Homo sapiens: one gene and its partners. The protein of the gene in region 1 purifies or fractionates together with the protein of each later gene. This does not show direct contact. Each region holds a gene or a part of one and is shown in the gene's direction. Other genes may lie near its edges.

The links.
Region 2: the proteins of SOST (region 1) and KPNA4 purify together in Homo sapiens (affinity purification with mass spectrometry; 2 studies listed by BioGRID and IntAct, with this or other methods). This does not show direct contact.
Region 3: the proteins of SOST (region 1) and AHCYL2 purify together in Homo sapiens (affinity purification with mass spectrometry; 2 studies listed by BioGRID and IntAct, with this or other methods). This does not show direct contact.

The regions. Positions count from the first base shown.
Region 1 is NC_000017.11:43,753,205-43,755,994, reverse strand, and holds the end of SOST (sclerostin precursor), read left to right. Parts: intron 1-231; coding exon 232-653; 3' UTR 654-2,257; downstream 2,258-2,790. UniProt on the Homo sapiens protein: Negative regulator of bone growth that acts through inhibition of Wnt signaling and bone formation.
Region 2 is NC_000003.12:160,524,072-160,527,571, reverse strand, and holds part of KPNA4 (importin subunit alpha-3), read left to right. Parts: intron 1-1,464; coding exon 1,465-1,634; intron 1,635-1,727; coding exon 1,728-1,772; intron 1,773-3,500. UniProt on the Homo sapiens protein: Functions in nuclear protein import as an adapter protein for nuclear receptor KPNB1. Binds specifically and directly to substrates containing either a simple or bipartite NLS motif.
Region 3 is NC_000007.14:129,231,475-129,235,210, forward strand, and holds part of AHCYL2 (adenosylhomocysteinase 3), read left to right. Parts: intron 1-3,736. UniProt on the Homo sapiens protein: May regulate the electrogenic sodium/bicarbonate cotransporter SLC4A4 activity and Mg(2+)-sensitivity. On the contrary of its homolog AHCYL1, does not regulate ITPR1 sensitivity to inositol 1,4,5-trisphosphate.

The DNA.
Region 1 (2,790 bases):
GAGCCCTGGTGTTTGAACCCCAGCAGTCATTTGGCTCCGAGGGGACAGGGTGCGCAGGAGAGCTTTCCACCAGCTCTAGAGCATCTGGGACCTTCCTGCAATAGATGTTCAGGGGCAAAAGCCTCTGGAGACAGGCTTGGCAAAAGCAGGGCTGGGGTGGAGAGAGACGGGCCGGTCCAGGGCAGGGGTGGCCAGGCGGGCGGCCACCCTCACGCGCGCCTCTCTCCACAGACGTGTCCGAGTACAGCTGCCGCGAGCTGCACTTCACCCGCTACGTGACCGATGGGCCGTGCCGCAGCGCCAAGCCGGTCACCGAGCTGGTGTGCTCCGGCCAGTGCGGCCCGGCGCGCCTGCTGCCCAACGCCATCGGCCGCGGCAAGTGGTGGCGACCTAGTGGGCCCGACTTCCGCTGCATCCCCGACCGCTACCGCGCGCAGCGCGTGCAGCTGCTGTGTCCCGGTGGTGAGGCGCCGCGCGCGCGCAAGGTGCGCCTGGTGGCCTCGTGCAAGTGCAAGCGCCTCACCCGCTTCCACAACCAGTCGGAGCTCAAGGACTTCGGGACCGAGGCCGCTCGGCCGCAGAAGGGCCGGAAGCCGCGGCCCCGCGCCCGGAGCGCCAAAGCCAACCAGGCCGAGCTGGAGAACGCCTACTAGAGCCCGCCCGCGCCCCTCCCCACCGGCGGGCGCCCCGGCCCTGAACCCGCGCCCCACATTTCTGTCCTCTGCGCGTGGTTTGATTGTTTATATTTCATTGTAAATGCCTGCAACCCAGGGCAGGGGGCTGAGACCTTCCAGGCCCTGAGGAATCCCGGGCGCCGGCAAGGCCCCCCTCAGCCCGCCAGCTGAGGGGTCCCACGGGGCAGGGGAGGGAATTGAGAGTCACAGACACTGAGCCACGCAGCCCCGCCTCTGGGGCCGCCTACCTTTGCTGGTCCCACTTCAGAGGAGGCAGAAATGGAAGCATTTTCACCGCCCTGGGGTTTTAAGGGAGCGGTGTGGGAGTGGGAAAGTCCAGGGACTGGTTAAGAAAGTTGGATAAGATTCCCCCTTGCACCTCGCTGCCCATCAGAAAGCCTGAGGCGTGCCCAGAGCACAAGACTGGGGGCAACTGTAGATGTGGTTTCTAGTCCTGGCTCTGCCACTAACTTGCTGTGTAACCTTGAACTACACAATTCTCCTTCGGGACCTCAATTTCCACTTTGTAAAATGAGGGTGGAGGTGGGAATAGGATCTCGAGGAGACTATTGGCATATGATTCCAAGGACTCCAGTGCCTTTTGAATGGGCAGAGGTGAGAGAGAGAGAGAGAAAGAGAGAGAATGAATGCAGTTGCATTGATTCAGTGCCAAGGTCACTTCCAGAATTCAGAGTTGTGATGCTCTCTTCTGACAGCCAAAGATGAAAAACAAACAGAAAAAAAAAAGTAAAGAGTCTATTTATGGCTGACATATTTACGGCTGACAAACTCCTGGAAGAAGCTATGCTGCTTCCCAGCCTGGCTTCCCCGGATGTTTGGCTACCTCCACCCCTCCATCTCAAAGAAATAACATCATCCATTGGGGTAGAAAAGGAGAGGGTCCGAGGGTGGTGGGAGGGATAGAAATCACATCCGCCCCAACTTCCCAAAGAGCAGCATCCCTCCCCCGACCCATAGCCATGTTTTAAAGTCACCTTCCGAAGAGAAGTGAAAGGTTCAAGGACACTGGCCTTGCAGGCCCGAGGGAGCAGCCATCACAAACTCACAGACCAGCACATCCCTTTTGAGACACCGCCTTCTGCCCACCACTCACGGACACATTTCTGCCTAGAAAACAGCTTCTTACTGCTCTTACATGTGATGGCATATCTTACACTAAAAGAATATTATTGGGGGAAAAACTACAAGTGCTGTACATATGCTGAGAAACTGCAGAGCATAATACTGCCACCCAAAAATCTTTTTGAAAATCATTTCCAGACAACCTCTTACTTTCTGTGTAGTTTTTAATTGTTAAAAAAAAAAAGTTTTAAACAGAAGCACATGACATATGAAAGCCTGCAGGACTGGTCGTTTTTTTGGCAATTCTTCCACGTGGGACTTGTCCACAAGAATGAAAGTAGTGGTTTTTAAAGAGTTAAGTTACATATTTATTTTCTCACTTAAGTTATTTATGCAAAAGTTTTTCTTGTAGAGAATGACAATGTTAATATTGCTTTATGAATTAACAGTCTGTTCTTCCAGAGTCCAGAGACATTGTTAATAAAGACAATGAATCATGACCGAAAGGATGTGGTCTCATTTTGTCAACCACACATGACGTCATTTCTGTCAAAGTTGACACCCTTCTCTTGGTCACTAGAGCTCCAACCTTGGACACACCTTTGACTGCTCTCTGGTGGCCCTTGTGGCAATTATGTCTTCCTTTGAAAAGTCATGTTTATCCCTTCCTTTCCAAACCCAGACCGCATTTCTTCACCCAGGGCATGGTAATAACCTCAGCCTTGTATCCTTTTAGCAGCCTCCCCTCCATGCTGGCTTCCAAAATGCTGTTCTCATTGTATCACTCCCCTGCTCAAAAGCCTTCCATAGCTCCCCCTTGCCCAGGATCAAGTGCAGTTTCCCTATCTGACATGGGAGGCCTTCTCTGCTTGACTCCCACCTCCCACTCCACCAAGCTTCCTACTGACTCCAAATGGTCATGCAGATCCCTGCTTCCTTAGTTTGCCATCCACACTTAGCACCCCCAATAACTAATCCTCTTTCTTTAGGATTCACATTACTTGTCATCTCTTCCCCTAACCTTCCAGAGATG
Region 2 (3,500 bases), on another chromosome or scaffold:
TAAACCAATAATTTTTCTCCGTAATGACAGTTCTGAGAAGAGTCTAAAATGAAATTTTTTCTCTCTTGCAGACTTCAGTACATTAGAATTTAGTAATGTATAAAATATAGTAATATTATTTCCTGTCACCATGAATCAACAAGACATAACCATAGCCTTTTGACAGTCTGGTTAAATATTTAACACTGTGATTACTATAACTTTCAGGTTCTCTCTGATAAATAATTGTAAGGAAAATAAAGACAATTCTGATATTTCAAGGATTTGTTTTTTTAACTAGAGCCTAAACTCAAAAATTCAAAGAACTATTCTCCAGTAAAGGATGGAAAAAATCTGAATTGTATTGTGCCCCAGTATAGCTCAGAGACCTAACAGTTATGAGTGGGGGCTGAGGTACTGTTTGTAGGGGTATTGCTAATCTAGTGAAGGAGAATGATTCTAAAGATTATTTTTGCCAAATTCTTTATTCTTGCATGGAAATAATCATTGTTGCTTTGATATGCCATCTCTTTATTGCCCTTATACAGGGCCAACATGAAAGTAAAGAGTGGTTATGAGTTTTTAAGGGAGAATTTCTCTGTAAACCATTCTTGACATTGGGTTTATACTATTAGGAATGCTATTGTTTCTATATCCAGACTCCCTCACTCTTTTGCTTTTATACCAAATGTTAGATTTAGAGCTATTATACAGCATCTTGATCTTTCATTTTTTTATTCCAGTGACATTCCGTAATTAACATGAATATAAAGATGCAAAAAGAACAAACATTTTATCTCCAGATATTATAGTGCAAGGGAAGGTGCTTTCACTTATGGTAACATTTCAACATGGCTTCATATTAGAAACTGCAGTGATGCTTCAGATACAGAAATTAAACTTGGCAGTTCTCTGCAGCAGTGGTTCTCAAACCTTAGCATGCAATCAGGACTACATGGGGTGCTTGTTAAAACACAGAATTCCAAACCCATAGAGTTTCTGCTTCAGGAGGCCTGAGCTAGAGCCCAATAATCACATTGAGAACCACTATTCTAGCACTGGTTCACCCTTTTCTTCTGACATAGTTTTCTAAGTGTATAGAGTAATTTATAGTTCATAACCTTGATGCTCTGATACGGGATCATAAGTACAAATTCAACAAATATTTTCTTGATACATCTTTTTTATCACATGAAAGTTTGTTAAACCAAGAGTATTGTTGAGAGAGAAGTTAAAAGCAGCAGTTTAATTAAGTGAGCAGCAAAATGCTGAAGATGGGAATAATGTGCAAAAGAATACCTTATCACTTTATGTTGCCTCTCTTGGCTCAGAGACCTTGAATGTGAGCCTGCTTGTTATTGTCTAAAACTGAACAGTGTATCTGGATAAAATACATGAAGCAGCATATTCCCAGTGCTTTGTGTTTTCTGAAAATGCTTACTGTCAGTATGTTTTATTGAGTAAATTAATCCTTTTTTTCTACAGGTGATGGGCCCCAGTGTAGAGATTATGTCATAAGTCTTGGAGTTGTGAAACCTTTACTTTCCTTCATAAGTCCATCTATTCCTATAACATTCTTAAGAAATGTTACTTGGGTTATGGTCAACTTATGTCGCCACAAAGACCCACCACCACCAATGGAAACCATTCAGGAGGTAAACACTTTTAAAAAAAAATTAAAAGAGATACCATTATATATATATTTTTTATTTGTGTATGTTTTTAAATCTACATATTTCTCTCCTCAGATTCTTCCAGCCCTTTGTGTTTTAATTCATCACACAGATGTAAATGTGAGTAAATGTGTCCTATTATATATTTATGTATGTATGTATGTATTTCTAGGGCTTCCCCTGTGACATAGGGGAGAAATATTATACTAACACATTGTGTCAGCATACTATCAGATTTTCCCATTTCAAGAGTTATTTTATATTAGATTAGTTATTTTATAATATTTTAATATTTACTCTATGTTTATCTATATCACAAAATATAATACCAGTTAAGAAATCAAGCATAACTGTTATTTTGGTGTGGACAATATTGTATGTATGTGTATATATTAGTGTTATAAAAACTGACATTAAAAGTTTTTAAAGTTGCCAGATAGTGGTGATTTCTCTTACTAAGATCATGTCTTTAATTGTTCTTGTGCTTTTTACAGAAGGTCATTTTGACAGTTTGGCCAATGAAAGCACACACAAATAGTGCTATTTTTGTTTTTTGAAAGATGAAAAAGGAAAATGTTTGTGCATGGATTTGTATTCATATACACATACCAAACCATGGACATCAATTGCCCTTTAATTCCATTTTTATTCTATTTCTCAGTTACAGTGACTGGCAGTGGCTTCATTTATCAAGATAACTTGATTATCCAAACAACAGGAAAAAAAAATCAGTGCAGGCAAGATTTTAAACATAGCAAATATATTTTGCTTATTTTTACTAACACAGATGGCAGAGGAAAAAGCAACTCAGGGAGTATGAATGAGGTGGAAAACTGCCCTGAGTGCTTGTAAAAGCCAGACCAGCCTTTGGTGTGTTAGAGAAACCAGGAATATAATGGGTAAGGGAAAACACATGAATGAAATGTTTAGCAACAATCAGGAACTCATGTGGTTCTTTAAAAACAGTTTGGCATGGTGACCAGTGTTGGACAAGCTGCTTCATTTCTTTACAATTTAAAGGCCTATGCCTTTTGGCCAGAATTTAATTTGTATGGAACAAATTAAAATTAGAATTTTACTGTATCAAACAGTGACATAATATATAAAATTCATTAGATGAACATGATCTCTGTGGTAGAGTTTTTGTTTGTTTTTAGCCCCAGATAGTTTAGGATCTTAAAAAATGTGTAAGTAATTTTTGGTTTTGGCTCCTTAATAGCCAAGTTCTTTGATTAAATTGTGAATTTCAATATTTTGCTTTGAAAGATTTACAAGAGGCCAGGTGTGGTGGCTTATGCCTATTGTCCCAGCACTTTAGGAGGCTGAGGCAGGAGGATCACTTGAGTGCAGGAGTTCGAGACCAGCCTGGGCAACATGACGAAACCCTGTCTCTATGAAAAATACCAAAAAATTAGCCAGGCATAGTGATGTGCACCTGTAGTCTCAGCTACTCAGTGGCTGAGGCAGGAGGATCTCCTGAGCTGGGGAGGTCAAGGCTGCAGTGAACTGTGATCATGTCACTGCACTGCAGCCTGAGTGACAGAGCAAGACCCTGTCTCAAAAATAAATAAATAAATAAATAAATAAAACGATTGGCAAGAAAGATTTAACTTCAAAGTTTATACCTCTACTAGAAAACAAGACATCTTGGTTGACTTTATTTAGAGATAGATTGTGTTCTTTCCACCTATTTACTCCAATCTAGATGAGACTGTGACTCCATTTTCTTGCCTTTGATGTATCTTGAAGAATTTCTCAAGCCTGTTTACATTGTTCTTTTTAGTAACATGATTAACAAATAATATTGCTTACTAAATAATGTGTTAGAAGTTTGATTTGAATTATGAT
Region 3 (3,736 bases), on another chromosome or scaffold:
ACCCTTTGTCAAGTTTATAAAGAATATGCAGTTTGTTTCATGGTGGTTTTTGTTTAAATAATTTAGAGAGGTACAACTGAGGCAGATGGGAAGAGAACAATCTTGGCAGTTGCCCTGATCCACTGCCCTGCTGTCATGTTTAGGTGGTAGACACAATTAGAGGAGCTGAAATTCCATTCACCCAACAAGAGGTTTAGTAAACTTGATCAGATTTCTATGGAATTTGTAGGAGCTTTTTATAGTCTGAATGACCTATGGCCTGCGATTTGGTGAGAGCAGAGCAGAAAGCGGCAGTGGATTGACGTTTCTTCTGTAACAGTTCCCAACTCTAAAATTACTTTGATTAAATTAGATGATTATTTGTATGGGTTTCAGTCTCCCTTTTCCCCAGCTGTATCGTGCAACAGTTCAGTTAGCTATTTCCCTCTTGGACGCTTGCACTAAAAGCTGGTGATTTTATTTTCTTTTTTTTTTTCAAGGGTCTATCAGTAGAAATCTATTGGTTTGGGGCACCTAGTTCTTAGCTTAGAACCTATATAAAGGAAGGGTATTTGAACTGCTGATTGAGTTTCTCTGAGTATAGGACTTTAGCCTTTCTGAATGTTGCAAACCTGAGGCTAAAACTAGCTTCATCTTCTCTGCACACACTTACATTCTACAGTGCTCCAAGGTGAAACTTCATCTATTGACTACCTTTTCTTGGAAACTCTTCTCTTGGCTTCAGTGTCACTTATAATTGCTACCATTTACTGAATACTTACTCCGTGTCAGGAATCTCTGTCTTAGTATTTAATCCTCATGACAACTTTATCAGATGTGTAGTACTATCTTTATATTATGGATAAGAAAATATAGGCTCAAAGAGAGTAATTAACTTGTCCAAGGCTTTGTCAATGAAATGCTGGCCATAGCAATATTGGGCAGCTTTGCCTCTGTGCCAACACCCGTGCTGCTCTGACCAGACTCCCACTGAAGTCTGCTTAAGCTGCTGCTAAGACCACTTTGGATCTCACAATCTAGCCTCTTTCAAGGGGAGGCCTAAACACCATGCCTCACATCCCTGTTTGTTTCAGTCACTACCCGCCATCCGCCATCCATTATCTTCCCAATACTAATTCCTTTACCACTCTCTTCATCCTTCAGCTGATTCAGTCCCTCAAACTGTTCCACCATGTTCTTTACAATATCCCCCTCCTTGATCAGCAGATTCACATGTAGTATCAGTCTCTAGCAGCAAGATCAAGTTATAAGGGCAACAGTGGCAAGTGTTAGCACTTAGTATCCAGAACTGTGATGGTGCAAACCAAGCTGCAGCATCTCCTGCTTGGCATTAGCAATCACATCTTTGCCAACCCAGTTCTGTAATTTTGAGTGTTGTTTTAGCTGTGTAGCACTTAAGTTCTTCACTGAAAAAGTGACCTCATATCCTTTCTGTAAATTCTTTTTCTGTTTAATTCAGCCAGTGTTGACTTCTGCTGCTTGTAGAACTTGGAGTGATGTACGGGTTGAACCTAACCATCTACCTTCTTAGTTGCTGGCACTCATGGAGCTGAGAGTTGCTAGAGAAAATCAGCAAATTAGACAGATCAGTGTCATTAAAAATTTATAATCATCTATTTCATATGCATAATCAGCATTACCTAGCAATGTTATACATTTCTCTAGTTCACTTTCCAGCTCACTGCGAATTATTTCTTCATATTGTCTCTTTCTCTTTTCTTTTTTACTGAGACAAGGTCTCCCTCTCTCACCCAGGCTGGAGTGCAGTGGTACAGTCACAGCTCACTGTAGCCTCAAACTCCCTGGTTCAAGCAATCCTCCTGTCTCAGCCTCCTGAGTAGCCAGAACTACAAGTGTGCTACCACGCCTGGCTATTTTTTTATTTTTTTGTAGAGACGGTATCTTGCCATGTTGCAGGTCTCCAATTCTCGGGCTCAAGTGATCCTCCTGTCTCACCCTTCCAAAGTGCTGGGATTATAGGCATTAGCCACTGTGCCTGGCCTACTGTCTCTATTTCTTTTTCTCTTTTTTTGAGATGGAATCTTGCTCTGTCCCCAGGCTGGAGTGCAGTGGCGCGATCTCCGCTCACTGCAACCTCCGCCTCCCGGGTTCAAGCGATTCTCCTGCCTCAGCCTCATGAGTAGCTGGGACTACAGGCACGCACTACCACGCCCAGCTAATTTTTGTATTGTTAGTAGAGATGGCGTTTCACCGTGTTCGCCAGAATGGCTCAATCTCCTGACCTCGTGATCCGCCCTCCTCAGCCTCCCAAAGTGCTGAGATTATGGGCATGAGCCACCGTGCCCAGCTCTTATTTCTAATCTCTCATATTTTCTTCTTTTTTAACCAGTCATAGGCTTTATGCCTCATTATAAAAATGGAAGCTGCTGAATGGGAATTCCTTCATTCTTTTACCTCCCAAGTCTACAAACCTATGTGCATCTGGGACTCATCTTTTTCTCCTTCATTCTGTCAAGACCAATCCCTTCACAGGTGCTGTAATCATTCTTTTCTCCCCCTCCCCCCTTCCTCCTCCTTTCTTTTTCTATCTTTCTTCTCTCTCTTTCTCTTTGTTTTCATTCATTTTTCTTCAAGAGATGAAGTCTCACTCTGTAGCCCAGGCAGGAGTGCAGTGGTGTGGTCATAGCTCATTGCACCCTCAACCTCCTGAGCTCAATAGAACCTCCCTTCTCAGCCTCCCGAGTAGCTGGGACTATAGGTGCATGCCACCATACCTGGCTAATTTTTTTATGACTTTCTTGTAGAGATGGGGTCTCTTTTTTCCCCCTAGATGGAGCCTTACTCTGTCACCCAGGCTGGACTGCAGTGGCACTATCTCGGCTCACTGCAACCTCCGCCTCGTGAGTTCAAGCAATTCTGCTGCCTCGGCCTCTCAAGTAGCTGGGATTACAGGCATCCGCCACTGTGCCTGGCTAATTTTTGTATTTTTAGTAGAGACGGGGTTTCACCAGGTTGGCCAGGCTGGTCTGGAACTCCTGACCTTGTGATCTGCCCACTTTGGCCTCTCAAAGTGCTGGGATTACAGGCGCGAGCCCACACCTGGCCAAGATGGGGTCTCTTGCTATGTTGCCTAGGCTGGTCTTGAACTCCCAGCTTCAAGTGATCCTTCCTCCTTGGCCTTTGAAAGTACTGGGATTATAAGCATGAGCCGCTGCACCCAGCCACATTTTAAAAACTTTTTGTAGAGATGGTGTCTCACTTTGTTGCCCAGGCTGGCCTCGAATTCCTCGCTTCAAGCAGTCCTTCTGCCTCACCCTCCCAAAGTGCTGGGATTACAGGTGTGAGCCACTGTGCTTGGCCTCTCCTGTCTTAAAGAATTTCTTCCTTTGGTTTATTTCATCTTTCTACTAGGTCTTTTCCTTCAGAATTCACACTTGCCCTATTGTCTCCCATTTTGAAAACCCTGTCCTTTGACCTGCATATTTTCTGTTGCTGTCATGTTTTTCTATTCTCTTTCACAGGCATGCTTCTTAAAGGAGTTTTCAGTACATGCTATATGTGCTTTTTTCCTCTCATGAATTCCTTAACTCACTCCTGCTATAATATTCTGTTTAACCAAAACAAAACCCTCTTGCTAAAGTTGTTGATGTCCATTAGATTGGGAAACATGGGGGTCTTTTTTTTCAGTCCTCATCTTCTTGGACCTCTTAGCAGCATTTGACATTGACTCCTTGTGAAACACTCTTTTCCCTTGGCTTCTGTGACACCGATCTTT